2 separate regions of the Homo sapiens genome follow, and region 2 is linked to region 1. The links come from fine-mapping of genetic effects on gene expression. A gene starts in region 1. The other region holds a variant in brackets. All regions are shown on one strand. Distances are from middle to middle. Region 1 holds the start of MIR548A1HG (MIR548A1 host gene). Region 2 overlaps RNF144B (ring finger protein 144B).

The links.
Region 2: its variant is fine-mapped to the expression of MIR548A1HG in monocytes after R848 (Quach 2016, PIP 0.95). The same link has a PIP of 0.9 or more in monocytes after LPS and monocytes after Pam3CSK4.

The regions. Positions count from the first base shown.
Region 1 is chr6:18,513,800-18,529,904 of GRCh38, reverse strand. MIR548A1HG (MIR548A1 host gene) reads right to left here and starts at 7,158. Exons shown (of 8, transcript NR_149116.1): 1 at 7,070-7,158. LOC105374955 (a long non-coding RNA gene) reads right to left here. Exons shown (of 4, transcript XR_926549.3): 4 at 12,485-12,520. RefSeq lists an enhancer at 1,678-2,313.
Region 2 is chr6:18,460,070-18,476,174 of GRCh38, reverse strand. It overlaps RNF144B (ring finger protein 144B), which reads right to left. Exons shown (of 8, transcript NM_182757.4): 7 at 12,795-12,884; 8 at 7,305-11,248. The coding sequence ends at 11,108. Among named protein-coding and RNA genes, the nearest start is that of MIR548A1HG, 55 kb to the left of the region's middle. The variant A/CA (reference allele first, on the strand shown) is at 8,767.

The DNA of each region.
Region 1 (16,105 bases):
AGTTTTATAATTTAGAAAGAATGGGCTCATGCCTTTAATCTCAGCACTTTGGGAGGCTGAGGTAGGTGGATCGCTTGAGCTCAAGAGTTCGAAACCAGCCTGGGCAACACAGCAAAACCCCATCTCTACAAAAAATACAAAAATTAGCTGGCCGTGGTGGCATGCCTGTAGTCCCAGCTACTTGGGAGGCTGAGGCAGGAGAATCACTTGAACTCTGGAGGCAGAGATTGCAGTGAGCCAAGATTGTGGCACTGCACTCCAGCCTGGTAACAGAGCGAGACTCTGTCTCAAACAACAACAACAAAAAATTAGTCAGGCATGGTGGAGTGCACCTGTGGTCCCAGCTACTCGAGAGGCTCAGGTGGGAGAATCACCTTAGTCTGGGAGGTCAAGGCTGCAGTAAGCCAAGATCACACCACTGCGCTCCATCTTGGGTGACAGAGTGAGACCCTGTCTCAAAAAAAAAGAAAGAAAGAAAGGATGCAGCAAATTAAGAGCACACTCAGAGGACATGACAGGACAGCAAAGAAACCATTGGAATAACAATGAGGGGAAACAGGAACATTTAACATATAGAAAAGAGGATTTGGGACTTAAATGACAACGGTCTTGAGTGCACTGTGCTGTACGGCAAAGAAAAATTGAATGTGTTCTCCAAAGATCTAGAATCCGGTTCCTACTCTATTCCTATTTACTGTGTGATCTCAAGCAGGTTGCTTCCCTTCTCTGGGTCTTATGTCTTCACCTTTATAAAAGGAGGTGTTGTTTTGTGAGCAATGGCAGGGGGTTTTCATCAGACTTAGGTTCAAATCCCACCTACATGGCTTACCAGTTACGTGGTTTTGATCTGAGCCTTTGTAAAATACAGATAAATAAAGATGAAAATTCCCTCAGAGCTTATTGTGAGAATTAAATAAAATAATGTAAATAAGATGCCTGGTGCAATGCTGATACATAGTTGATACTCAATAAATTATAATTTACAATTACTAATTACCAATAAATGGTAAATACAGTTATTCAGTAATACGACTCTATAAAAGATGTGAAATGCCATTACAAGAAGGCGATACAGTTTTCTGCCATGTTGCAAGACCAGCGATAAAAGTTATAGGAAAGCAGGTTTTTCACTAATTGAAGAAATAACTTTCTAATAAGTAGAACTAACAAGAAAAAAAAGCTGCCTTGCGAAGTAGCAAAGTTCCCAACACTAGGAATGTTCAACAGGGTCATGAAGAATATCTGTTGGGGACACTACAGAACAGCTTCCTATATTTTGAATGAGAAATAGATAAGATCCCTTCCTAATTCAAATGTCTATGACTTTCAGCTGAATGCAGTACCAAGTGCATTCATAGTTTATAATATTAATGTACCACTGCCCTCTAGTGTATAACCTAAGAAGATAAAATCACTGATTAAAAAAAAGGAAAAAAATGTTTGCACAAGCATCATGCAAAATTATTTTTATTGACAAAAAGTTATCTCACCAATCATTGAGTAGAACCTTCTTATTTTCAGGTGAGAAAACTAGAGGACAGAAAGTGATACAATTAGCCCAAAGTCACAGGGCTACACAGCACAGAGCTGGGATAAGAATCTCACTCTCTAACTCTCAGGTCAGGGTTCTTCCTGACATGTCACATTCCTGAGGCTGCAGCATAGATCCAGTTATCCTTGGATAGCATCACTTGTCTGAGCCAAAACTCTTTGGTTCTAACCACGTAACTGGACAAGTTTCTCTCAGCACGATGAGTCCAGCACATCCTCAATCACAAGTTCAAACCCTTACAACCATGTTGCTGAAAAAAAAACAATGGTTAATGAGGCCATGTTGACAAGCATAGTTCATTATCAGCAAGCTAATGACCACTCAGGCCGCAGCAGGGATGCCAGCCTACAATTAGGTCTGCAGTGATGTACAAACAGAAAGGGACTCTAGTTATAATTAAACCTGATCCTTTAGTCCAATTGCTCATTAGGAAAGAAAATAAAACAATCCACAGATCCCACACAAGAAGGCCTAAAACTAATGCTTTGGTCCGGGGATGAAATGTTAGGCCATTGAGCTATTAGCCCATGTCTGTCTGCTGCTGAATGAGCACTTAAGCTTATATTCTTATTCAAAATACTTTGTAATGAAGGAGGATTGGTTTTCATCTTACTGATTTTGAAAGCCGTGGCACAAAGGATGCTGGATAATTTTTCATTTTCTTCATTTTGCCTATCACGATTGTTCAATCGTTTTTCCTGTGGACCTGTATTACTTGTGCAATTAAATATATTTAAAAAGTACTAAATCTTGCCAAAATCTCTTCAAGTAATGAAAACTAGGCATTAAACATAAGAATACACATAAGCACGAGCCTTTCATAATTAGAAGAAGGAACTACCTCTATAGAAAGGCAACATGATGTTATAAAAATAAAAAAGTCAGCACAGTATATGGGTTCTGAAACCAGAGGACTGGAATTCATGCGACAGCTTTGCTAGTGAACCCTTGGACGGGTATCTAAAATTTTAAAGGAAGGTGTCTGTGATTAAATGAAAGGTCTAGGTAAAGATCCTAGGAGATGTGAAAAAAAAAAAGTGATTCATAAATTACAGGTTCCTTCCTCTTCCCCATATTCCCCTGCATTGCTTTTCTGTCCTCATAATTCCTAAAATATGTCTAAATCTAGAAAGAGATGTCTTACTAAGAAAGACCAATTGAAAGCTTTGAATTGATGAGGAAAGAAGATGTAAGTAGGCCTAAGGAGGGAAAGTAGTAAGAAGAGAGGGAGAAGAGGAGGCAGTATTAACAAGAAAGAAGAGAGAATGGGCTTCATTTGGAGACAAATTCTCTGGAGCCTTGAGAAGAGGTGGGGAGGACATTGGAAGAGTGAAGCTAATGAGATTAGAAAAGGTTTGTTTTCTCCCTTTCTTCCCATTTAGTCCCTTCCTTACCTTTTTGTCTCTTTCAGATTCTTAAATGATGAAGCCCTTTCTTATTCCTGTCCATTTATCCTTCATCTGCAACTTCTTTCTCGTTACTCAGTGCCCTAGCCGTGTGCTTTTGAATCAATCTCGCCAGCACCCTCTGGAAGTGTGTGTCATCAATTATCTTTTCATTACATAACGTTTCTCACACATACCTTCAATCTGCTCTTCTCTACTGGTCTCTTATCTGTCTATCTAAAAGCATTCTTAGGTTTTCTCTGTACTTAAGATTCAATCCCAGGAGCCCTTATATTGCCATGTGCTCCCTGGGTAACAGAAAGGGAAAGCACTGTGAAGAATACATCATTCTTTAAAAAACCAGTTCCTGCGCTCAAGGGGCTTACCAATTAGTTGTGGAGAAAAGACTATGTCATTAGAAACAATGGTGATCAATAAAAGGAGTATATAATTAAGTCCTAAATTGGCTCGTCAGACTCTGAGTCTCTACAGCTTGGGGGATGCACGCCAAGGAGTTCCCCAAGGTGCTATGGTAAGGGATGATTTGGAGGAAGCACCAGGCCAGAATATTGCACAAAGCAATTACTCAATAAATATTTGTGATTTGGTTTGAGACAAAATGTTAGCTAAGCCTTGAAAATCATTATAAGATCGCCACTTCTCCCACCTACTTGACAATTCTCCTTCTTCATTGGTTTTAAGGTGCATATTGTTTCACATCTTAACAATTCTGGAACAAGGATGTATTTTTCAATCAAGGAGACTCAGCATGTGTTACAGACTAATTGCCAGTGCTTTTTCTTTCTTAGTGGTATATAAAATAATGGTACAACTTACAACCGATGGCTTCTTAGATTCCATAAAACACAGTTTTTTTGTGTATCCAGTATATTTCAGGTTGCTATTTTAGGCCCTAGGGATATGTGAATAAGAAATGTAAAGTTTTTCTTTTGTGAAGCTTGCATTGTGATAGAGGAAGACAGATAATAAACAAATTAACAAATATATGATACACTGATGCCAGGTATGGTGACACAGACTGAATAGGAACTAGATTTAGGCCTAGATCCCAATCTACTGTGCAGGAAAATAAAAAATAATGAGAAGTGAAGTTTTTAAAAATCAGATTTCACGTACGAGAAATAGCAATTTGGAAGGAATTTACACATATTTTGGGTATTTCATCTCCTCTGCTAGACAGTGAGCTCCTTGAAAACTTTTTATAAAGGGCAATTTACTTAATTTTACTACAAAAGCTGAAAAATATAGTATGGATTGGACCCTTGATCTCAAGGGTCAGGAAACTTTTTCTGTATAGAGCCAGAGAGTCAATAATTTCAGCTTTGCACATCATATGCTCAATGACACAACTACTCACCTCTGCCATTGTAACACAAAAGCAACATGGATAAATACATAGATAAGCATGGCTGTTTTCCAACAAAATTTGGTTTATAAACACAAGTCGCAGGCTGAATTGGCTCCACATTGCAGTTTCCCAACCCCTGAACTAGGTAGCTATTCCTAAAGGCTCCTAGAACTCTGGAATTCTTTGAGATCTAAGCCTGGAGACCTATTTACCACAGCATATACAAATGATCCTCGACTACAATGGTTTGGCTTACAATTATTTTTCATTTTTAATGGTGCAAAAGCAATACACATTCAATAAATACCATACTTTGAGTACTCATACAGCCATTCTGTTTTTCACTTTCAGTATGTTATTTAATAAATTACACGAGATGTTCAACACTTTATTGTAAAATGGGCTTTGTGTTAGATGATTTGGCCCAGCTGCAGGCTAACATAAGTGTTCTGAGTATGTTGAAAGTCAGCTAGGCTAAGCTATGACATTTGATAAACCTATAGGTGTATTAAATGCATTTTTCCTTATAATAGTTTCAATTTGCAATGGGTTTATTGAGATGTAACCCCTCGAAGGCAAGGAGCATCTGTACAACATCCACAAGATTCCCCAGATTGTTAGTAAGGCCACAGAAACAAACCAAGAAAAGGGGAGCAGCAATGTTTCTGGGGTATCATATGTGGAGATGAACCCATTTACAAAGGTTTGCTCAAAAACCAAAAATTTCAACTCATCCCAACATACATGGCCTTCCAGATAGATTCAGGGAATCCTGCACTAAAAAGAACAGGTCTTTTTACAGCCACAGATAGGAGGTCAGCAGGTGATTAGTGAGGTCTGCATGCTCAGACCTGGCTTGTTGCACTGCGGTCAATTACACAGCTGGTTACAAGTGTGTGTTTGCACCTGTTCAAGCCTTCAAATGTGCTAATCCTATATTAATTAAGCAACTTCTTAGAAGCAGGTTAAAAACAAATTAGACCCTGCCATCCCATGCCTGTTCCAGCCTTCCCTTGGTAGCCCTTCATCTATAAGGGATCATCTACAGAGGGTAAGGAGCAATGTTTCTTCGTAATTCGGGAGGGGCTCATTATGCCCCATCAATTAGTGCTGCCACCACTTAGTGAAAACAGTTGTTGGTACATAGCCCATATTAGTGACTAATTAATAAGGGTTGATTAGCTAAGCCCCCTCACAAGGTATAACAGGCAACAGCCACCTTCCACAAGGACTACGGATTAAAACAGAGATATCAACAATGTAAAATGAAAGAAATTTTGCTGGTGACCCTCATCTTTTTTTTTTTTGCTTGGAGACGGAGTCTCACTCTTTTTCACCCAGGCCGGAGTGCAGTGGCGCTGTCTGCAAACTCCGCCTGCCGGTTCACGCCATTCTCCTGCCTCAGCCTCCCGAGTAGCTTGGACTATAGGCGCCCGGCTAATTTTTTGTATTTTTAGTAGAAATGGGGTTTCACCGTGTTAGCCAGGATGGTCTCGATCTCCTGACCTCGTGATCCGCCTGCCTCGGCCTCCCAAAGTGCTGGGATTACAGGCTTGAGCCACCGCGCCCGGCTACCCTCATCTTTCTGAATGGGTTAAGAGACAGCACAGTCCATAGCTAACCAGTACACCTTATGATTTCAATACATTGAAATGATTTCAGTTGCCAAGGATGTCTGGCTTGTTATTCTTTGAATCATTGATAAAGGGAGGAAAGTAGTACCATAGCAGATTAATGTGGGAGCTTATCTCAGGGAGGTAGAAAAATCGACCCTGTACATGTAGGATGCACACCATACTGCAAAACATAGGACATGAATGTGTATCTATTTAGATATCCCTGTTGATATTTTCAAATGTTATTTTTATTAGGAGCATGGAATAGTGGGTAAAAACAAGAGACTCAGATTAGTGATTTGACTAATTATGGATCAAGCAAAATGTTCATGTTTCTGTATATCAGTTATTGTGTTATATCATAATTACCTGTTGTGTATCTCCCTCATTCACACACACACACACGCACACATAGACACAAATTTTGATCACGGGTTCTTTGAAGTTAGGGGTCAAATCTCATTTATCTTCATATTCCATAGAAGAGAGCATTTTAGAAACTTCTTAGCCATTTGATGAATAGATTAAGGAATGAATGCTTTAACTTCTGATTACTGGCTAATATTTGTATCTTTAGTAGAGATGGGGTTTCATCATATTGGTCAGGCTGGTCTTGAACTCCTGAACTTGTGATCCACCCACCTCAGCCTCCCAAAGGGCTGGGATTACAGATTACAGGCGTGAGCCACCACACTCGGCAGCTGATTCCATCTTTTTTTTTTTTTTTTTTTTTTTTAGACGGAGTTTCACTCTTGTTGCTCAGGCTGGAATGCAATGGCACAATCTAGGCTCACTGCAACCTCTGCCTCCCAGGTGCAAGCAATTCTCCTGCCTCAGCCTCCTGAGTAGCTGGGATTACAGGCATCCGCCCGCACGCCCGGCTAATTTCGTATTTTTAGTAGAGACGGGCTTTCTCCATGTTGGTCAGGCTGGTCTTGAACTCCCGACCTCAGGTGATTCGCCCGCTTCGGCCTCCCAAAGTGCTGGGATTACAGGCTGAGCCACTGCGCCCCGCCTGATTCCATCTTTTACTCATGGCATCATTCCTTGCTACTCTTAACAGGTGTATTACTCCATTTTCATGCTGCTGATAAAGACATACCCAACTCTGGATAATTTATACAGGAAAAAGGTTTAATGGACTTACAGTTCGACGTGGCTGGGAGGCCTCAGAATCATGGCAGAAGGCGAAGAGGAGCAAGTCACATTCTACGTGGATGGCGGCAGGCAAAGAAACGGTTTGTGTAGGGAAACTCCCGTGTTTAAAACCGTCAGATCTCGTGAGACTTATCCACTAGCACGAGAACAGCACGGGAAAGACCCACCCCCCGTGTTTTAATTACCTCCCACCAGGTTCCTCCCACGACACGTGGGAATTGTTGGAATTAAAATTCAAAATGAGATTTGGGTGGGGACACAGCCAAACCATATCAACAGGTTTCCTTGGGATAAGTCTGATGCGTTTAGCATATCAAAGCTATCACTGTTCTCCAGTTTACCAAAATACCTCTTTCCAAACACGATGGAGAAAGAAGAAAAATGAGTGAAAAAGAGAAAAAAACCTCTAACCTACTCCCTAAGAATGTTCATCGTGGCACCATTTAAAATAGAGACTGCAAATAAACCTAAGGATGGTTAAATATAGTATGATACATTCTACATGTCATATGAAATCATTAAATTAATGTTTTAAAAGACTAAGAGTATTTAATGACATAGAAAGTGTTCCACTGAGATATCGTTAGAAATAAAAGGCACAATCCCTGCAGGATAATATAAAATAATATGTATCATGTGCATCTCTAAAAGGCCAGAGGTATAAGATTCAAAATATTTTAAAAGGCTCTCTCTGGTGACAGAATTGGGTGATGTTTATCTTCTCCTTTGTGTTTTTCTGGAAGATCCAAAGTTTTACAACATGTGCTACATTATAGTCAAAGGAAAAAAGTCCATATGAAAAAAAGAAAAGGTTTTGCTTTTATATATCTTTATACGACATCATAAAAACCATGCAATCTCATCAGTCAGGCTGAACTCCAGCAGCTACTAAAACCAGTTTAATTAATGATTCTCACATAAATTAAGTGAACTTACATTACCAGATAATAAAACATATTATGACACTACAATAACGTAGTACACACATAAAAATTGATGGTAGAAACAAATAGCCCAGAAATGGATCCTAATATATATCTACTCAAAAAGAACTTAGTATATGATAAAGGTGAGATGACTAATCATTCAAGAGGAGGAAGGATTATTTCATAAATAGTGTTAAAATAGAGAGTTAACTGTTTCAGTGAGAAGATAAATCACTGCCTTACAAGATACAATAATGTACATTTTGGATGGATTTAATTATTAAGTGTAAAAACTACACTCAGGAGACCCAGAAGAAATAATAAATATGTGAATTTATAATCTAGAATTTCAAATATCTTTCTAATCAATGATAAAGGAAAAAATAAACCAGAAAGAGAGGGAGACCAATTTTCCTACACTTTTGTATATCACTTACTCACATCAAAAACCACCATAAAAGGCCTGGCGCAGTGGCTCACGTCTGTAATCCCAGCAACTTGGGAGGCCAAGGCAGGCGAATCACCTGAGGTCAGCAGTGATTCCTGCTGAAACCCCGTCTCTACTAAAAATACAAAAATTAGCCGGATGTGGTGGCACACGCCTGAAACCCCAGCTACTCCAGAGGCTGAGGCACGAGAATCACTTGAACCCAGGCAGCAGAGGTTGCAGTGAGCCGAGATTGTGCCACTGCACTCCAGTCTGGGCAACAGACTGAGACTCTGTCCTCAAAAGAAAAAAAAAACTTTATGTTCCATTAGGGCAGGGGCTGTCTCTCTCTCATTTGCTGCTGAATGTTACACCTTCTGCAGTGCTTCACACATAGTGGGCAATCAATAAGTATTGATCAAATAAAAGAATGATCATTTACAAAAGAGTAAATAGAAATGACCATTAACACAGTTATGTTTTAAAAGTCCCACATGACTGGTAATCAAAGAAATGAAAGATGAAGCAGAGATAACACTTTATTCCCTCAACTTGGCATGTATGTCTTTTAAAATAATACTCACTGCTGTCAGGTATATGATGAAATGAGTACTCTCACTCACTGCTACTAGGAATCTGTTAGGTCAAAATTTGTCAAAATGTGCAAAAATCTCAAAAGTGTTTTGATCCTTCAGCAATATTTTCATTTCTGAGAATTTATTATGGAAAAATAATCTAAATAAACACAAAAATATCAATCTCCGCAATCCTGGTAATGCTGTAAATTGGAAACAACCTAATTGTTAAATACAGGGAATTGATTAAATAATTATATACATATGAAATAATGTTATAAAATATTAATATTTGTGATTTTGAATATTTAAGTATATGGAAAATTGTATGTTATAAAACAAGTTTAAGGATAAATCTATACGTATATATTGATTCCCATATTTTAGAAAATATATGGATATCTATACGTTAAAAAAAATAATATGTAGTCCAGGCGCAATGGCTCCTGCCTGTAATCCCAGCACTTTAGGAAGCTGAGGCAGTTGGATCACCTGAAGTCAGGAGTTCGTGACCAGCCTGGCCAACATGGTGAAACCCTGTCTCTGTTAAAACTACAAAAATTAGCCAGATGTGGTGGCACATGCCTGTAATCCCAGCTACTCCGGAGGCTGAGGCACGAGAATCGCTTAAACCCAGGAAGCAGAGTTTGCTAGTGAGCTGAGATCTCGTCACTGTACTCCAGCCTGAGCAACAGAGTGAGACTCTATCTCAAAAAAAAAATAAAAATAAAAATAAAGTGCATATTTTTATGTTTACTTGGATAGCGAAATATGCTTTTAAATTGATTTCCCAAAGAACTCATACTACTTGTATAATAAAACAAAAATAATAATTTTAAAAAACTTATCTTCACCATGCACAATGGCACAGCAGCTACACAGAGGCCACAGCAGGACGATCACTTAAGCCCAGGAATTTGAGACCAGCCTAAGCAACATGGAAAGACCCTGTGTCTTTAAAATTTTTAATAGTTTTTAAAGACTTCTCTTCTGTGAGGTTTGCAAGCTTTTTCATAGTTTGCAAGCTGTCATTTTAATATATTCTATTGATCACAAAAGGATTGGGGTGGGGAGAGATAGGTACTATAAACTGAAACCCCGCTGCTCTTAGGCAAACCCAACAATCCCAGCATATGTTGGGGTCAGTAGTGATACTCTCCTAGCCGGGACCTCCTGGGCTCACTCCATCCTACGCAACCAATACCCACCCTTGGTAACTCAATCACTGGCATCTAAAAAATGCTTTTTGCTTAGCTTAGAATATTTTGCCATTTAGATGAACATTTTTCATCAATTTTTCACTGAGTTTTTTTCTCCAGAAATGTGAACTGAAAAGTGAATTCATAGAAGAAAAATTGTTGAAAAAAAATTTCCTTTAGGATGTTTTTAGAGAATTTTTTAATCCTGAGAAATTTCACCTGCAGGAAAAGAAAAAAAATACTTAATTGCTTATTCAGTCCTATTTTCCTAAGTGTTCAGATCTTTTAATAACTTTAATGTATAGGACAGTTGCATAGGTAACATTTTAATATGACTCTGTGCATATGTGTACTACTTCTCAAAGAGGTTGAACAATTTTACATACCAGTAGTGTATGATATTTCTGGTTGCTCCACATCCTTAAAAACACTTGATGTGGTCAGTCTTTTTAATTTTAGCCATTCTAGTGGGTATGTAGTAATGTCTCATTGTGATTTTACTTTGCATTACCCTAATGTTTGGTGTGGTTGAACATTTTTTTCATGTGCTTATTTGCCATTTGTATATCTTCTTCGGTGAAGCCCCTCAAGTTATTTTTTCAGGACTGTGCTTTGTTAGAACGTTTGAAGCCTATGAACTTAAGAGAAATTCATATATCTGGTATTCCAATAAAATATTTGGAGATACCCTTCAAAAACGAGGTGTTCAGATCCTACTTCAAGCTTTATTTTTCATAGCTTTCCTGCCTATAATTATCATGTCATCATTATCCTATCTGTATATAGTCAAATAATATTGTCCTGAGAATTAATGTAAAGCAGATTCCTTCCTTCTGGCTACTGGATTTCCCTCTCAGATACTAGTTGGATGCCTGCCCAAGAGGAAAATATCAGGCATTGCAGACAGGTAATCCTGAGCACACAATCTCATTCTATAACTGAAATCTAAAATGCTATACACCAAGGAACATTTCATAAATCTTTCCTCTAGTTGAGAATTATAACCTCTCTTTATGACAGAGAACATGTGTATCCAGTGCTGGAGATTTTATTCTATGCAATAGGAAATAAATAAATAAAATTGAAAAGCATCCAGATTTGAAAAGAAGAAATAAAACTGGCTTTATTTGCAGATAACACGACTGACTCTGTAGAAAATTCTTTGGAAAAACAACTTTGAAAAAAGAGCCAGAGGGTTCGTACTGCCTAACTTCAAAGCTTTTACAAAGTTTCATTAACCAAGACAGTGTGGTATTCGCATAAAAATAGATCAATAAATGAATTAGAATAGAACATAGACCCACATATTTAGGATTGTTGACAAAGGTGCCAGGACAATTTAAAAGAGAAAGAATAATCTTTTCAATAAATGGTTCTGGAACAACTTGGTATCTATATGCACAAAAATGAACCTTGATTCTTACCGCTTAGTATATACAAAATTTAACTCAAAATAAAACATAAGCCTAAATACAAGAGTTAAAATTATAAAACTTCTAGAGCACAATAGGAAAAAAAATCATAGTGACCTTAGTTTGGCAAAGATTTGGATACAGGAATAAAAAGAAACCATAAATTAGACTTTATCCAAAGACACTATTTTAAAAAGGAAATGAGAAACCCTAGACTGGGAGAAAATCTTTACAAATAATGTATCTGTTAAAGGACTGATATCTGGAATACATTTTTTAAAAACTCTAACACCACCACCACAATTTTATTAAAAATGGGCAGAATATTTTAATTAACACTTCAAAAAAGATATACAAATAGCAAATAAGCACATGAAAAAAATGTTCAACTACACCACTACATAACCACTAGAATGGCTAAAATTGAAAAGACTGATTATATCAAGTGTTTTCAAGGATGTGGAGCAACCAGAAATTTCATACACTACTAGTGAAAATGTAAAATTGTTCAACCTCTTTGAGAAACAATTTCTTAAAATGTAAATATGCAGTCACCATATGACCTAACCATTCTACTCCTAGCTATTTATCCACGAGAAATGAAAGTATATGTCCACACAATATATACATGACTGTTCATAGCAGCTTTACTTGTAGTAGCCAAAAACTAGAAACAAGCCAAATGTACATCAATAGATAAATGGATAAAAAATTGTAGCATATTCTTACTCAGCAATAAAAAGGAATGAGCTCAGCCTGGCCAACATGGTGAAACCCCGTCTCTTCCAAAAACACAAAAATTAGCCAGGCGTGGTGGTGCGTGCCTGTAGTCCCACCTACTCAGGTGGCTGAGGCAGGAGAATTGCTTGAACCCGGGAGGTGGAGGCAACAGAACAAGGCCCTGTTTCAAATAAAAAAAAAGGTAATGAGCTATAAATATACAAAACAACATAGAGGAATCTCTAAAAAATTATTCTGAGAGAAAGAGGTTAGAAAAAATAAGATTCCATTCACATAAAATTCTCAAAAATGCAAACTAATCTATAGTGACAGAAATCAGTGGTTGCCTGAAGAAGCGAGAAGCAGGTGATAATTAACCCAATTTGGGTAAAGGTTTCGCAGATACATATAAATGTATTTCAAACTCATCAAATTGTTCACTTTAAATATGTGGATTTGAAACATCGTATGTTCTCACTCGGAAGCTAAGCTATGAGGATGCAAAAGCATTAGAATGATACAATGGACTTTGGGGACTCTGTGATGGGGAAGCTGGAAAGGGAGTGAGGGATAAAAGACTACAAATAGGGTACAGTGTATACTGCTTGGATGACGGGTGCACCAAAATCTCACAAATCACCACTAAAGAACTTATTCATGTAACCAAACACCACCTGCTCCCCCAAAACCTATGAAAAGAAAAAATAAATTAAAAAATAAAAAAGTCAAAATAAAAATAAACAAATATGTGGATTTTAATATTTGTCAATTATACCTCAAAGAAGCTGCAAAAAACTGATGATTAAAAGAAACTTACGGAGAAAAATGAGTAAGAAAGTGCACCTGCTCTTGAATGAGACTACGGGTAATGATTTGATTTTTTAAAACATGGTAAATGCAATAATAGCAATACACCTACAATAAAAAATCTTTTGGGCCCTAAGCAACCTTTTTGATGAATTGAGGCCTGAACTGGGCTATAGAAATTTCGTATCTATCATTAACTTAATATATTATTACGTTTTGTCACTGCCACTTGCTTCCAAATTTTCTATAATGATCATATAATTTTTTCATAATAAAAACATTATTTTAAAAATAAATGTTCAGTGAAAAAGACTAATTTAAAAGACCTTGTAAATACTATAAAAAATATAAGTATCATGCTAACAATAGTTGAATATTAAGAGGAAAATTGTGCCTGAATATTAAAATGGCTATATAGAAAGAAAGAAACCATGCTAGTCTAGAGAAAAGGGAATGAAGGAGAGCTTAGAGATTAATTTTCGTTAATAATGTTCTCAATTCAGCTTTGATTTCATCTGCCACAAATCTTTGCCTCCTCCTAATATGGCTTAATTAGCAGGAAATGGAGGGTATCCTTTCACACCAGAGAAATTCAAAGCTTCCCCTTGTAGTTTATCCCCAAAATTTCTGGGTGCAGCAGAAGTCAGTCAAGCTGCTACAGCTTTTGTTATCGATGCATTATTTTGATGGGCACTGAGGGGTGGCAAAGACAGCCTGACCTTGATGGCAGCAACAAGCAGGCTCTAACAACAAGTTGCAGTGCACTGCCACCCCACAGCTCTGGAATGCATGACAAATCTTTGTTAATCTCTTGAAACAATATCACCCTTCAGAAGCACTGCTTTTTGCTTTTTTTCTTTATTTTATTTTCACTACCCAAGTGTTGCCTAAAGACATAGCACAAGCTACAAACTTAATGACTTTGAATTAATTCATTTTTGATTGATTGAACTTTGAGAATCAATTCATCTTTGATTGGTTGAACTTTGAGAGTCCAAGAGAAGTCACAGACCCGTCAAGGGAAAGAGAGACACTTCACAGATAGGGAAATGTGTGCTTTCCACTTCCACATGCCCCTGACACACAGAATTTCAGATCCTGAACTATGAAAGGTGGCTGTGAGCCATTCACAGACCTCTGCCCCTTGGATCAGGGCATTCCTATCATTTATATTTGTGTATTCCTAGATACCATCACTATTCCAATGGATATTGGAAAGGTGAGACAATATCATTGACCACAAAGTAACTAAAAGGCCAACTGGAATTTTTAAGATGCAGAATTTTTCTATCTTTCAATGAAACACCCAATTTTTTAAAGAAAGCATGCTTACATTTGCCTTTATTTTCAAAATTTTTAATTGTACAAATTTAAGCAGTACAAGTGCAATTTTGTTACATGAATATATTTCATAGTGGTGAATTCTAGGCTTTTAGTGTATCTGTCACCCAAATAACATACAGCATACCCATTAAGTAAATTCTCATCCCCCACCCTCCCTCCCAGCCTTCCAAGTCTCCAATGATTATCATTCCACATTCTATGTCCCTGTGTAGTTAGCCTTACCTCTCAATAAATCATTTCAGCAACCTGTGTTTCCCTCACCACTTCTAAAAATTTTTTTTTTTAATTGTACATCTCGAAGTGCTAGAGTTTAGGGAATCAATATTCCCTCCTGCCTCACTTTCACTTCTCACAATTCTAACCTATCAGAACATTCACAAAGTTCACCAGCCCAAGTGGCAATTGCAATAGCAGCTTCACTAATGGCTGATGTTTAATCTTTTTGAAAAAAACATAAAATAAAAACAGGGTATAACGCCAAGTCTGTACTTGACAGCCTGCAGTCAAAATCTCCCTCATATATGCCATCAGGCACTGGTAAACAAGCAGATCCTGTTCAGTCCACTTAGCTCCCAGAGAATGGCAGTGCTAAATCCCTCTCCCTTCCTACAGATTTATAGCACAAGAGAAAGTCGAGTCAGATTCTCACTTTGGCGGCATCGTAACTAGCCATTGTGTTGTACATGGCCCAGTAGATTCATACTCAACCATCAGCAATTTATCTTCCTTTGGAGAGGATAAGTAAAAGGTGATTAGAGAAACAAGAAATGTTCACTCCAGAACTACCTAGAACTGAAGCGATTCTATGAATGACTAGGTTAGAGGCCTGATAGAATTGGGTACCTGGACACAAAAATCTTAAAAACCACAATTTACTACAGAGCTCAAAGGATACACTTTCATCACATGTTTATAGAGAACATCAAACTGGGGTGATGCGTGGGGAGGGGGAATTTGCAAGCGTCCTTGGTTTCTGATAGGAGCTATGCACAGGTCAGGGGCAATGGTATTCTGGCCATCCAAGGAGAAATCTTGCCAGATTGCCGGAAGGCCTGCCACTGTGAAGCTCTGAATAATTGCCTTATATGGCTGCAAAAACTAACACTAGTTAGCCACATCAGTTGGCTCTACCATCCAGTTCTTTTTTTTTTTTTTTTTTTTTTTTTGAGACGCAGTCTCGCTCTGTCGCCAAGCTGGAGTGTAGTGGTGCAATCTGGGCTCACTGCAACCTCCGACTCCCTGGTTCAAGCAATTCTCCTGCCTCAGCCTCCCGAGTAGCTGAGAGTACAGGCGCGTGCCACCATGCCCAGCTAAATTTTGTATTTTTAGTAGAGATAGAGTTTCACCATGTTGGCCAGGATGATCTCGATCTCCTGACCTCATGATCCGCTCGCCTCAGCCTCCCAAAGTGCTGGGATTACAGGCATGAGCCACCATGCCCAGCCTACCATCCAGTTCTTAATGCACTTACTTACAATCCCATTGGCATCATCTTGCTTTATTGTCCAGACATTCAATCATAAATTAGCCATCACATGACAGTTGCGACAAGACCCGTCCATGTGCAGGCTCAAACAGGTATCTATAAGATCTAAGAAAAATTGAGTGCAGTAGA
Region 2 (16,105 bases), 54 kb after region 1:
AATCCCAGCACTTTGGGGGGCCGAGGCGGGTGGATTACCTAAGGTCAGGAGCTCGAGACCAGCCTGACCAATATGGTGAAATCCTATCTCCACTAAAAAATACAAAAATTAGCCAGGTGTGGTGGTGTGCGCCTGTAGTCCCAGCTACTCGGGTGGCTAAGACAGGAGAATCACTTGAACTCAGGAGGTGGAGGTTGCAGTGAGCCGAGATCGTGCCACTGCACTCCAGCCTGGGTGACAGAGCAAGACTCTGTCTTCAAAAAAAAAAAAAAAGAAAAAAGAAGAAGTTAATCTTACTTCAATAATTTAAAATGTAATCTTTAAAATGAAATCAGGCCAGGTCTGGTGGCTCACACCTGTAATTCCAGGATTTTGGGAGGCTGAGGCAGGAGGATTGCCTGAGCTCGGGAGTTTAAGACCAATCTGGGCAACATGGTGAAACTCTGTCTTTACAAAAAAATTAAAAAATTAGCGGGGTGTGGTGGCATGCACCGTAGTCCCAGCTACTCAAGAGGCTGAGGTGGGAGGATCACTTGAACCCAGGAGGTCAAGGCTGCAGTGAGCCGAGATCATCACGCCACTGCACTCCAGACTGGCCGACAGAGCAAGACCTTGTCTCAAAAATAAAAATAAATAAAATCAGGCCAGTTGTGGTGGTTCACACCTGTAATCCCAGCACTTTGGGAGGCCGAGGTGGGAAGCTGCTTGAGCCCAGGAGTTTGAGGCTACAGTGAGTCCTGATCGTGCCCCTGTACTCCAGCCTGGGCAACAAAGCAAGACCCTGTCTCTACAAACAAAATTACTTAATTAAAATCAAAATAGTATGGAGGTTATAATTTTTAATGAATGTTTAAATGAACAATAAAATTAAAAAATAAAACCAGAGACCTCAAATAAGTGTCTAGCCCTCAGCAGTTAGCTTGGGACAATGCTTCCAGGTCATCTTCTGTTCCCTCCAGTAGTAAATTAACATTCTTACACCAGTTGAGGATATTTATTGTTTGAGAAATACCCTGCAGATTATGAATGGGGAGTGGGAGAAGAATACAACCACTTATTTTTATCATTTTCATTTTAAGGTGCAATCAACACACATTTTTGTTTTCCTTAAGGTAGGTAAAAGAAATTAAACCTGAAGATTTTTTTCAAGTTTTTTTTTTTTTTTTTTTTTTTTTTTTCTGAGACGAAGTCCCGCTCTGACACCCAGGCTGGAGTGCGGTGGTGCGATCTCGGCTCACTGCAAGCTCCGCCTCCCGGGTTCATGCCATTCTCCCACCTCAGCCTCCCAGGTAGCTGGGACTACAGGCGCCCACCACCACGCTCTGCTAACTTTTTTGTATTTTTAGTAGCGATGGGGTTTCACCGTGTTAGCTAGGATGGTCTCGATCTCCTGACCTAGTGATCCGCCCACCTCGGCCTCCCAAAGTGCTGGGATTACAGGCGTGAGCCACCATGCCCCACCACAAGTTCTTATTTTACTTCCTTGGCTATGACACACTTGTGATATCAGATGTAAATATGAGGACTGAGTTTTAGTATGACCACTCTTAAAACTTTTAAAGCATTCTTTGAATATTTAATTAACTTGTTTTTTTAATTAACTTATTTCTTTATTTACCGTTTTTCAAAGTTCACAAGTAGTTTTGTGTTCTACTTTTGAAAATCGAATTCATTAAAGACTGAATAAAAATTTTGTTAACAAAGTCGATGTGCCTATTTATCTTCTCATTCACACAAACATACATGCATATATACTATCCTATATGCTATCAATATATATACCTTAAATTTAACTCAATTTGCAGAAAATACAATGTATACTGAAAAAAATTAATAACAAGCCCCTTAGACTAACACACTCATAATAATCCATGGTGTGCTTCAAATAAGGAGAGTGAGGTCCTGATATTTTTTGTATAGGTACTAGAAGAAACATGTCCCTGGAAATTCCCCAAGCAACTTTGATTATAGGTCTTTTTAGCCACCAAGAGCTGTAGATAAACCATGAGGTTCAACCACTACTCTTTGAATTTGCTCATTTTAAGTAAATTGGCAATATATTTCATATGCTTCTGGCATTATCCATAACAGCATCTGGAAGCTGCTTCTGAGGATTACTTTGTCTAAGAAGGAGAATTTCCCTTGAGCTAACTAGTTTCATGCATATAGAGCTCACAGAGGGGGCTGGAGGTTTTTTCCATCTTAGTCAAAATGTTAGGTTTGTACTGAACCTAGAAAACAGTTACTTCCTAATTTTCTAGATGAGGCAACCGAAGCCAAGAGAAATTGTAACTTGTCCACAAGAGACTAGGAGAGCTATCAAACTTCCCTCCAGTCTTTCATTTCTAGTCAAAAGCATGGCTATGCTAGTTTAAAACATCTACAGCATCTGGCCGGGTCTGTATTGCTGCACTGGGGGTGGGAGAGGGGAAGAGGCAATGACCTTGACTTTTGTTGCACGTCCCTCAACAACAGGCAGTGACTGGTTAACTCAGATCCATCTGCTTTACTGGTCTGACTTGAATGGAAACACCATCCTGTACTTTAAGCCAGCTCTTAAAAGAGTTGTCCTTCCTGAATCCAAAACAAGATTCAATCCAATCCTGAATCTTCTGAAGGTTTGTTTAGAAAGCTCAGATCAGGTTTTCTTCTGAGTCCATTTAAGAAAATCTGTCCCACATATAGACCAAATGGACCTCCCAAGGACACTAGCCAGAAGCAGAATTGCTGATCTCCTTGGCTATACTAGACCCAATTCCAACGGTAAGTCAACAGTTCCCAGGTAGAAGTTAGATTTTGCTAACTCTTCCCCAAGTTTGTGATGTCTTCAAGCAGATTCTATTACCTGTGAAAACTCTTTGCCTTCATGGGGCTGGGAAACAGAACAGATTTTAAAAAGCTAAATTTCCTTTTGAAAATGACAAATATACATACTCTCGTAGCCATTAAAATGTAAAATGGAAGCCAGAGATGTGTCAGAAGAGGAAGCCAAAGAGGTCTGAAGTATGAGAAAGACTCAATGAGCTGTTGCAAGCTTGAAGATGGAGGGGGCCACGTGGAAGGTGTGAGAAGGAACTGAATTCTGACAACACCCAGAGAGCCTGGAATAGGACTCTGAGCCTCCCTCCAGAGGAGAACACAGCCCCATCCAACACTTTGATTTTTTTTTTTTTTTTTTGAGACAGAGTCTCACTTTGTGGCCAGGCTGGAGTGCAGTGGCACAATCTCAGCTCACTGCAACCTCCACCTCCTGGGTTCAAGCGATTCTCCTGCCTCAGCCTCTTGAGTAGTTGGACTGCAGGTGCCCACCACCACGCCCGGCTAATTTTTGTATTTTTAGTAGAGACAGGGTTTCACCATGTTGGCCAGTATGGTCTCAATCTCTTGACCTCGTGATCCGCTAACCTCGGCCTCCCAAAGTGCTGGGATTACAGGCATGAGCCCCCACACCTGGCCAACACCTTGATTTTTAGCCCAGTGAAACTTCGAGCAGAGAACCCAGCAACATCACGTCAGACCTCTGATCTACAGAAACTGAAGTAATAAATGTGTTGTTTTTAGATGCTTTTAAAAATTAAAATAATGCAAACAGGTCCCGAGTTAGTTCATGCAAGATGTGGGTTCAAGTTCTAGCTTTGCCACTCACCTGCTGTACGACCTGCACCATGTCTTCTAACCCCTGAGTCTCATCTCCCATCTGTACATTGGGGGTGGGGGGGTGTGAAGAGTAATATCTACTTTCTAGAGTAGTATGAAGAGCAAAAGGAAACTGCATACTATAAGGCATTATTTAAACACTAAGTTCTTACCATAAACCTTCCCCCCAAAATCAATGTGTTGATATAAATTCTGCATTTCTTTCCACATATTCCCCTCATTTTAATGAAGCATATACTTAGATTTAACTATTTTGTGAAATATTTGTTAAACAATGACATAGGATTTTTTTTTTAAACCTAAAAAGAAAATACATTTACGGAGGGGGTCATACTTCTCTCAACACAGACAAGCTTGAAATGTATTTCAGGACTACCCTCCTCCTGCCCCAAGTTTGCCCCCTCTTCTCCTCTCAGAACAATGCCTGGCTAAAAACTGATTGACTCGGCCAGGCGCAGTGGCTCATGCCTGTAATATTTCAGCATTTTGGGAGGCCGAGGCAGATGAATCACTTGGGGCCAGCAGTTCAAGACCAGCCTGGCCAACATGGTGAAACTCTGTCTCTACTAAAAATACAAAAATTAGCTGGGCGTGGTGGCACACGCCTGTAGTCCCAGCTACTCAGGATGACGATGCAGGAGAATTGCTTGAACCCAGGAGGCGGAGTTTGCAGTGAGCAGAGATAGCACCACTGCACTCCCGCCTGGGCAACAGAGCGAGACTGTCTCAAAACAAACAAACAAAAAACTGATCAACTACACTTAACAGCTGCAAGCACACCTAACTCAGTGGCTCGCTCTCCTCACACCTCCCTAACAACCAACACTTAGAAGCACTTTGACATTCGGGATTTTACTCGATCCACCTAAGCCTGACCTGAGATAGGGATGAAATGACGCTATACAATAAAGGGCTGGCCCCAGACCATACCACCAGTCAAGAGCACAGCCAGGCCTAGAACTGAAGCCATCTTATTGCCAGCTGGGCGTCTGCCTCCAACCCCACACCACCTGGATTGGCAGAGGGCCGGGAGGACAGAGGACGCTGCACACTTGTTCTGTGGCCAGGGTGGCACCACGTTTGCCAGCCCTCTCCCAGCACCCTGTTCACATGCCCTTGTGGTGCCAAAGTCCCAGGGCCAGGCTGGAATTCAGGACACACCACACAGGGTGGTATGTGGATTTCTGAACTTGTTTTAAAATGAATTGGCTTGTCTTCAAAACATAAGTCGAGGCTGATCAATAATCAGAAGTCCCATAACTTACCTCAAAAATACCTTCATGTTCATTTTATCTGAATGTGTTCAGTACTATTGATGTTAACCACCCCTCCACTCCCCACAAAAGGAAATATATCTTCTTGAATCATGTCAGGTCCTTAAGGAACTACAAGATAAAACGACCAACACTCAACTTAATTTCCTTCTCATCGAAAGCCCGAATTCCTGATTTAACAGCTAAAAAAAAGCAAAACTGAGGGCAAATATAGCACTGATAAAAATCGAAAATCATAAAGGCAGAAAATGGAATTGAAAGGACTTCTTTATGTATGAGAAATTAAGTTCATTACTTGGAGTCCCCTTTCTAGCTTTGGAAACTGCCAATTGATTTAATGGTAGGCTACAAATACACATTTGAGTACAAGTTGGCAGTGTTAATAAGAAAGGAGTTAGATCTGAGTCAACAGTCCCTTTGAATCTTGATTGTAAATATCAAAAGGAACTTGTGAGAATGTACTTTGTAGGGGAGAGGCAAGCACTTGGGCATTTGGGGTAAGTATATAGATTCAGCTATAATTCTGCTTCCAATACTAGCAAGTCAGATGCAGACCGCCTTGTTATTTTTCTAGTTACCTTCCATCAACTGTCCTTCTCTAGCCAAACTTCAAGGAGTGAGGTGAGGGGATCTCAGGGGTACCCACCAAAACACAGCCTCTAAGTGATGATTTGAAATATGTTCTTACATACATCTCCACTGATGCAGATAAATGAGAGGGTACTATGTTCTCTTAGGACTCACAGATTTGGGAGTGAAAGACTCGAAATTACTAATGAAAGAGCATTATAGAACTTTCAAGTCGTAGTGCATTCTTTTCCTGGCTGTCACTCATCAGTATGAACCTAAGCAAGACATGAATACAAAACATTGCTTTCTTCATAAAATGGATCTAATCTGCTCCATTTATCTCAAAGGATTGTTCTCAAAAGTTCTTTAGTTTACGTAAAAATATACAAATAAAACATTATAATTGCTATTAACGCATTTAAGCAGATTCGTTTCCTTTTTCTCATAGTGTTGGGCATTATCTTTAGGGTCTAAAGAAAACTAGATTTATTATCTAACAAATGAAAATAATTGAATTACAGAAAAACCTAATTATTATTCTCCTCCAAATCATCAGATTCATAACTTAAATTGCAATGAGTTTGCTGGTTAGGGCACTGATTAAAATCACTGCTATATAAAATGGTTCATTCAATATTTCTTTGGGAATGCAAATTCAAGGTTAGCAAACAATAAGCACACTTTCAAAATGAAATAATGTTGACATTCTAGGAGATGATTAAGAAAATTAAGAAACCATAACCCAAAAGTATTTTTAAATGATCTTATTGATTTCCTCAAAACTGAATGATTAGAAAATGAAATTTGAATTGTACATCAGTTGTAAACCTTTGTATGCAGGTACCATTTTAGAAGCATCCAGCCTTCAATAAAAAGGTTTCAACACCAGTACAGGAGAGTGAGCTTTCGGTTTTATGGAAACACAAGCTCTAGTTGTTAAGTAATCTTTGGCACCCAACTTAAGACCTGCCTCGAATACTAATTCAAATGGAAATGACCTTAACACTCTTAAATCCTTTCTTAAAAAATCATAACAAGGAAACACATGCCTCTAGCAGACTTTTGGAAGGTTAGAACTGACCTTAGCGTTTAGTCCAACCTTTATTGTACAGAACAAATGGCTTTGACACTTGGCAGCATTTTTTATTAGAATGATCAAAGATCTGTATTATTGGTTATTGCTCTGGATAATGATGAGTTCCTATGCACTGGCAGTGTGGACTATCACACCTACAAAGAAGAAAGTGTGTAACAAAGGCATTACACTTGCCACCCCCCCACCCCCTTTTTTTTTTTTTTGAGACCGAGTTTCGCTCTTGCTGCCCAGGCTGGAGTGCAATGGCACAATCTTGGCTCACCGCAACCTCCACCTCCAGGTTCAAGCAATTCTCCTGCCTCAGCGTCCCAAGTAGCTGGGACTACAGGCATGTGCCATCATGTCCAGCTAATTTTTTTTTTTTGTATTTTTAGTAGAGACAGGGTTCTAATTTTTTGTGTTTTTAGTAGAGACGGGGTTTCACCATGTTGGCCAGGCTGGTCTCGAACTCCCGACTTCAGGTGATCCGCCCACCTTGGCCTCCCAAAGTGCTGGGATTATAGGCGTGAGCTACCACACCTGACCCCCTGACCCTATTTCTTTTAAGAAGTAAAGTAGCCAAGAGTTATTTCCATAGATGGTATTGCAAATTCTGGTACATTTTGTAAATTCAGAACCTAGGATTTAACAGTAACTTGGTTGGTTCTCAAAGGATAAAACTGAACATGCCTAGAATTGTGCAGCGCAACAAAGGTTAACACACTTGATTTCCTGCTTACATTTATTGTGGCTAGAGAGCCTAAACAGCTATTTTCTTCTCCAAAAATTGGAAAAATATAACACGATAGCAATTTTTTAAATACATAAAACTTCCTGGATCATGAATCAACATGAGACATAATAGCCTGTAGATATCAATTGTGATCGCTTTATAAAATGTCATTCATCTAATGCATTTCTGAAATTGCCCTTAAAGCTACACATACACACATGACTCTATATCACATAAAGGCATCCATTCATGAACAGAAAGAAAAGTCTTTTATTAGTACTGTGTAGGGAAGGCTAAAGAAATATACATTTAATTCAGAATAATTTTTAAGAAAAAACGTGGGGTTCCAAGAAATGGTGATTTACATTCAAATGAACATGTACATTTGCAAACCTGGATAAGTAGATATTTTCATGAAGCACGCTACAAGAAAATTCACACAGAATTATTTGTTTTTCAAAGGCCTCTTTCAAAGTACAGACTCCAAGTCCAAAGCAAATACCCATGGCATGAACAAATAGGATGCCTAAGATTCTAACATTTGCTTCGGCATGGCTTTCCTCCTCACTTCCCTACCTCACAACAAGAAAAAATTTCCTAGATGGGACAATGGCAAGATATTGTGCTAATACGTTTCATAGGATTTCTAGATGCTGGGCTATAACATCCAGGTTACAATTTGGTGACGGATTTTTTTATTTCTATTGCAAATGGACTACACTCCAAACACAAAAAGATTCTTGCCATAGCATCCAAACATCCCTATGTAGACCCACACTTCCTCTCAATACAGAAAGAGAATCACTCAGAAAGGACAAAGCTGGCAGACCAAGAAAGGAGGCAAGGGTAAACTCTGTCACTGGCCAATTATCTAAAACAAAAATAGCAGCCTCTGTTATCAAAGTTGTCAGTTAAAACTGTCAGCTGTCAGGCACAGTGACACACACCTGTAATCCCAACACTTTGGGAGCCCAAGGTGGGTGGATCGCTTGAGCCCAGGAGTTTGAGACAAGACTGGGCAACACAGAGAAACCCCATCTCTACAAAAAATACAAAACTTAGCCAGGTGTGGTGGTGTGTGCCTGTAGTCCCAGCTGCTCAGGAGGATAAGGTGAGAGGAACACTTGAGCCCAGGAGGTAGGGGTTGAAGTGAACCATGATCATGCCACTGCACTCCGGCCTGGGTGACAAAGGGAGACTCTGTCCAAAAAATAAAAATAAAAATAAGTCGCCAGCTCTCTCCTTTATAAACAGTCTTTAGACTGGTTTGTATCATGCCCCTTGATGTACCAGAGATATGTTTAACCAACCTAGTTTTGTTGATTCTGACAATCTCACACACATTTAAGAATTTACCATTTTTCAGGCACTTTTCAATGTTAAAAAAAATTAAATCCAATTATTGAAAATCAGTTTGACAAACAACCCCCACTCCATAGCCCTGGCAAAAAAAAAAA[A/CA]AAAAAAACAAAAGCAGCTAATTCAGTGATACAAACTCTGTAAGGTGGCAAATTCCCTCAACTCGCCAAGGAAATAGCACATATTTATTTTCTCCCATCTTTACTCCAAATTTGGGACCTCTTCCTCTGATAACACAGTCTTTTAGGTTACTTGAAATCAGCCCCCATTTAAAGACTCTTTGCAGCACCAAGCTTAAAGAGTTTACTGACAGAGGACTTTGCCACTATTAACATTCTTGTTACAAAAATTCAGTTTCAGTTGAGTTCTCGTAATCCCCTGAGCAGTTATAAATGCCTTTTACCTATAATGAGGCAGTGGGCTACGTGTAAAACAAAGCAAATTAACTATTCAAATATATGTAAATCTATAATTATACTAACATGAACTACACTGATAGTGTTTTTTTCTGAAGTGTTTAGAGTTTCAAAAGAAAAAGACACAATATTGAGAAATTTCTAATAAATGATTAAAAATGATTTTGGTTGGTTGCCATTCCCAAGTTTTCCCAGAGTTCTCATCTATGTTCTACACAACATGTAAATTAAAATGTACATAACCAACAGATGTACTATACACACATCAGATATCAATATATACTTGTGAATTAAAGTTCCTGAAATATACACATCCCCACTTAGGATATATCCTATTACATAGGCAAAGCATCATCCTTTAACAATAGGTCCGAGATAGCAGCAATTTGATATTCTATTACCCAGTTACCTCAGAAAATATCATAGATCCTGAATAGTTCCTGATATGGTATCCCTGGCTTCAAGAACTCTCCAGTAACATTTAGCATAGGTCTCATGAAGCACCAGGCTACATTGCCAATAGCAATTATATAATCCTGTCATTGGAGAAAAGGTTTTATCCTTTCAAAACCTCGTTATTCAAATCTGACTAATGGTATAATGGAAAAAATAAGTCACAATGAGGTGATACATAAATTTAAACTAAATTATATAAAGCATTTCTATTTTATTTCTTACATGTTTTTGTTGCGGTTTTATCAGTGCCTTGAAACAGAAAGTATTCAGACTGTCCTAACAGATGCTGAAAGAGCAATAATGATGCTGAGAAAAGAGCTATTCTGTGTTCGAAAACATGTAAATGACTCGGTTATCAATTAGCGTTTTTACAGAGATGGCAGGATATTGTACTAAGCACTGTTTTAAAAGAGTTATGAGTCTATACCCTTGGGTAAGTTATGAACTTACAACCAAAATTCACATATATAATATGCAAAAAATCTTTAGGCAGATTTACAATAAACCATTTCAGTCACAAAAGGATAGAATGGCTCTTAAGTAAACATTTATTTTGTGTGTACTATTGGGTATATCCATGCATGCTCAATGGATAGAAATTACAGGTAGGCTGCAAGTCACATGGATTCTAGATGTACATAATACGCACTTTAATATTTACCCTCCATGTGTACTCTTAGGCCTGATTCCAAATCTATTGGCTGTGTGAACACAGATCCTGAGAAAGGTCCCAGATATCTATGACGAAAGTTTTGAAACTCTACCACTCTACCCGTATTTTATATGAAACAATTCTGTAGACCACAGCCACTGGCTGTAAGAGACAAGTTGGCCAACTTAGAAAACTTACATTTGCCAAGGGAGAGACACTAAATTAGACCACATTGTTTAACAGGCTGCAACTCTTTTACTGGGAAGGGGCAACTCCCTCTGCACAGCAGTTTCACCTGCTTGAAGCTGAGATCACACAAGGAGAAGCCTATTGTGTTTCTGCCAAATCACAGCGGGAACATGGGGACAGCACACCCAGTAGCCAGCAGAGGCACAACCACCATATCAACTGCTGAGATCAGCAGCCTGCTTTATAGCTCCTATGAGGATTTCTCCTTACGCAGTCTTATCCTTCTCCTCATCAGGTTTCCCCTGTGTTTCTCATGGCAGTCAAATCAACACAGAACAGACTCCAGCTTCTTGGTTATCTTGTATGTTGCCAACAATGACAACACATTTGTTATATCAAATGTTCCCGCAAGCTCCTTGAATTTGGCTGGAAGTTGAACAGTCCAGTGAGATCCTTTGGATGATAAAATGATATGTTCATTCATCTCAAGGAACCCCAAAGCTCCATAGAAACAGCTGGACCGTTGAGCCCAGTTCTTGTTACACAGGAACACTCACACCCAGGACTTGGCCTTTCCTGATGCTGAAGGCTGGCAGGCAAGTTCAAAGTCTGGACACGGAGGCACTTTCAAAGTTGGCAAGGAGAAGGAGGCAAGGTCACTAAATGGGGCTTTATCACTGTGCCATCTCATGTAACTCACATATCTGGGGCGTATGAACACAGAGATCTTTAGGTTGTGGATGGGTCGTGCTTTTTCTTCTTGCCCCGACAGGACTTGCAGACACAACAGATTATACATGGGGAGGCCAGGAGTAACAAGGGTGAAGTAACCAAGGCAATGATGCCCAAGCCTACGAGAATCCCCACCACCTGGAAATTTCAAAGAAAAGCATATTTCAGCAATTAAGTCTTTCAATATGTATACTTATTCCAACTATACTGTTATCTGCTGTGGGCCAAATGTTTGTGTCCCCCTGAAGCTCATATGTTGAAACCCTAAATCCCCGATGTGACGGTATTTGGAGACGAGGCCTTTAGAAGTTAGTTGGTTTATGAGGGCAGGGCCCTCATGATGGGATTGGTGCTCTTACAAGAACAGATGCCAGAGAGCTTGCTTTCTTTCTCTAGGCTCTATGCCATGTGAAGACACAGCAAAAAAATGGCCATCTTCAAACCAGGAAGAGAGCCCTTGCTAAGATATGACCATGCTGTCACCTGAACCTCAGACTTCTCAGCCTCCAGAACTATGAGAAGTAAATTTCTGTTCTTTAAGCCTCCCAGTCTATGGTCATTTGTTATAGCAGCCTGAACAAGACATCATCTCAGGCACACAGAACAGTTACATTTCTGGGACCTTTCAGCTAGTGCCCAGCAATGATCTGAATTGGAGAGAAGCCAGAGAGATACAAAGGACCAAATCAAGGATGGAAACCATCCAAATGCTAACTCAAGCTGTCGCAAGCTCAGTATAGTCATGAATTATTGGTATTGGTGCTCTCTCTCTACTTGAATTTCCTCAACTAGCTCAAAGGGATGTTAATGATTACTAGGATATTAGCACTGACTCCCTCCAAAGGAATACCGCCTTTAATAAATATAAAACACTATTAAAAATTAAAAATAAACCATGACTCCTTTTGAACCTGCCACATAAACACACAATGGCATGTACACAGGGATCTAAGCCCTAGAAGGGGCTCACAGGGTTTTAGAGCACTGCCTGATATGGTTTGGCTGTGTCCCCACCCAAATCTCATCTTGAATTGTAATAATCCCCACGTGTCAAGGACAGGGCCAGGTGGAGATAATTGAATCATGGGGGTGGTTTCCCCCATACCGTTCTTGTGGTAGTAAATAAGTTTCATGAGATCTGATGGTTTTATAAATGGGAGTTCCCCTGCACAAGCTCTCTTGCCTGCCACCATTTAAGACATGACTTTGCTCCTCCTTTGCCTTCTGCCATGATTGTGAGGCCTCCCCAGCCATGTGGAATTGTCAGTCCATTAAACCCCTTTCCTTAATAACTAACCTAGTCTCAGGTATGTCTTCATTAGCAGTGTGAGAACAGACTAATACACTGCCTTTGATAGGTAATATGCCTTAAAGGGCTTTAGGAAAGTCATTCCACTGTTTCTCAAGAGGAAAGAACATCTGCCTGCATTCTGCACGTCACTGTTGACTGCCTGGCAGCTCTGGTGCCCCTGTTTCTCCGCTTGTCCTTAAGGAGACTGTGCTCATGAATTAACTTTAGGTATTTACCCCATTACTTTTCCCTAGCCCTGCCCTAACACTCCCCAGAAGCTCCCAGGCTGGGATGGTACCTCCCAGGAGGGAATAATGAGGAAAGGCGAAGAGGTGGGCTCTTTAAGCCATCACGATTTTGGTTTATGTCACGCTCCCTATAAGGTCAGGGTACCTGTGTTCGGTTCCACATCACTGATGCTCTTGAGTGGCCAAGTTTATTCCTGCATGGCCCTTTGTCATAATGTCTGAGGAAAATGTCATTCTGAAAAATAAAAAGATTGATTTCAGTAAATATGCAGTTTTAAATTGAGAAATGAATACAGACCACATCAGATCACCAAATGGAAGGCAAAGTTTTTCTCTGGTGATATCAGTGACCCCCTCTAGGAATTCCAAGCCTGTAATCTTTATCTTGGTAGTTTTGTAAATCACCAAAGTGAAAGCAGATCATAATCAATACGAATCTCAATTAATTATTTTTAAAAAGAAAAAAAAAGAGTAGTAATGACCTGACTACTTATCTTAGCAAGGTAGCTCTGGCGGAGGTACAATGGAATGGGAAGACCAGGAGCAAGGCAGCTGAAAGGCTGGTGTGGCAAACCAGGAGAGAGAAAATGCCAGTGACTGAGGATGGATGGAGAAGAGGAAGTTACAGTCCTCAGATATTAAGAAAGTAACTGGAGAGAAACAAGGAGAAGCAATCACAGAGAAGGGAAAGTGATTGGGTTAAAAGAAGGCAGTCGCTTTATTGAGAGAAGTGACAACATAGAGATGGAGTTTGTTGGGAAGATAAGTTTGGACACGTTGAACTTGAGAGATGGTTGAGACATCCAAGCAGGGCTGTTCAAAAGGCAGTTCATCACAAAGATCTACACTGAAAAAAAAAAAAACTTGGACCTCAGCAGAGAAACTAGCTCAGGGTCCAAATTAAGTGTAGATAATCTATCTAATGGTCTGTTCATTAGACAAATGGAGAAAGGGGACTCAACTGGGCATCGGTGTACATGGGGTAGAAGAAACCATAGAAGAGACTGAGATTAACTAGGAAGAGGGGTAAACTGAGAAGCAAAGAGGCTGCTGAACACAGGCATTTAAGACTGGATCGAGGAAGAGGCTAAAAAGGGAACTGGGATATGACCAGAAAGGTAGAAGAGAAACCAACAGAGGTGGTATCACTGAAATGGAAGTGGTCAAGATGTTAAATGCAGCAGAGAATCTAGGTATGCTAAAAACAAGTACTATTGGATTCTGCCAATAAGAAATCACTCAAAATCTGGGAAAGAGGTACAGTCGGGGTGTGACTACGTGGCAATCCGAACACATTGCAGTATTTGGAAGGTAAGTAATGTCAGTAGCAAGAGGTGATTAGGCTTTTTTGAAGCTTGGCTTCTAAAGGAAAGATAAATAGAGGGGTAGTAAGGAAAAGAAGTAGGCTTTAAGAAAAATGTTTACTCGTGTTTAAATGTGACACAGCCGAATGCATGGATATGTTGAGAGAGTGGAGAGTGGAAATTGAAACCACAGGAGAGGAAAGAGATAACTGAACAGCTCAAGTCTCTAAGGCTATGGACAGGAATAGGATTCTAAAGCAGACAATTAAGCGTAACTCATCCTCTGAAACTACAGGGGTGAGAATCAAGGCAGGAACAAGCTCAACTCCAACAACACTCAAAATTCCTGTTTGGTGTCCGTCTCAGGCCTGGATTTTAGACAATCACCCCTCTCCTGGCCCCATGATCTCAAACTTTCCTATAAACAGAGATCCACACCACCATCTGATGTAGAACTCCACTTGCGTAGAGAAAAACATCATTACCAACAATCCAATGCCCCTGGCTAAAACTGAAAATGAGATCTTAGAAAACAGTCACCAGAAAAAAAGATGCTTCAATATTTGAAGTCTGTGTATTCAGCCATTTAACATCTGCACCATTTCATCTCCAGAACCAGAGCAGCACAAGAGACAGAACAGCATGTCCTTTGCAACACCATCCCCCAAACACATTTCAACCAAAGGATGGAGATCTGGTGCACATATTTGTTCCCTTACACTCTGGCCTCCTAAAGAGAACCTCATGGGCTCAGCCTCCTTGTGGATATGAACCCAATTAATATTCTGGTGAAACCTGAAGGAAAACAAAAAAAAATTGTTTTTCATTTGTAATGCATGTGTAATGTACAATCAGTAAAATCCTCATCCAGAATATCACTCACTTAGATGCATGCTAGGTCTTAAATATCAAACATAATTGTAACTCAAGGGCCTATGATAAATCAATTTTTAAATAGAAGATATTTCTTCCAAACTGAGCTGCTGAACTTCTAGAGTCTAAAATGTCCATTTTCTTCTCCTCAGTTTATACCTCTTCTTAAATCACTAAGATGGAGGTTATTATTCTTATTCATACATGTCATCTTAAACAACATATCTAGTTTTCCATTAAACATCAAGCAGGTGGTGGCCTGCTTGATGACATTACATGCTAACTGCACACTCACTCACTAAGCATGTCTGAACTAAAGCACTACACAAATCGCTTGTTGAATTAAAGCAAATCAAGCAATCAAAACAAAGAGCTGAGAAAAGAATAGCAACTCAATGGTAACTGAGGGCTTACGCTGATATGGACATATTTTAGAGGTCCAAATTGCCAAAACAGAGTGTTATCTATAAACAACTTATGTTACCCCAAACTTTAAAAGACCAGAAGTGAAGTAAGACCTTCTCACCAACTCTTTGCATCGCATTTTTAACTCTGAAGTTACCATTAGCCTTGGCACAGGGCTGAATAAAACTGCACCTCAATTTGAGACTTGATTCATGAATGGTGAGAAAAAATTAAGCCAAGCCCCTTGATCTGGGAAGGGAACACTGTCAAAACAGTAGCGATACTGCTGCATGCTCATGAACAAGAGAGAGAGAGAGCGAGTGAGAGCATGCAAGAGAGCATGAGGGAGAGAAGAGAGTTAGGAGACACCATTGATTTGAACCATTTTTCTTTAAATTCAAAACGAAGAAAAAATCTAATAGTGGTAGGCAGAATAACTACCTCCCAAAGATATCATGGCCTAATTCCCAGAATCTGTGAATGTGTTACCCTATATGACAAGAGGGATTCTGCAAGTGTGATTAAATTAAGAACCTTGAGATAAAGGAGATTATCCTACATTATCCTGATGGGCCCAATCTCATCACATTGGTCCTTCAGGCAGAGAACCTTTCCCAGCTGTGGTCAGAGGGAGCAACGACTAAGAAAGAAGGGAGTGAGAGATCTGATGTTGCTGGCTTTGAAGATGGAGGAAGAGGCCACAAGCCAAGGAAAGCGGACAGCCTCCAAGGCAAGAAAACAGATTCTCCCCTAAAGCCTCCAGAAAGAAATGCAGCCCGGCTGACACCTTGATTTTAATCCAGCAAGACCTATGTCAGACTTCCAAAGTGAAGAACTGTGGGATAATAAGTTTGTGGTATTTTAAGCCACTAAG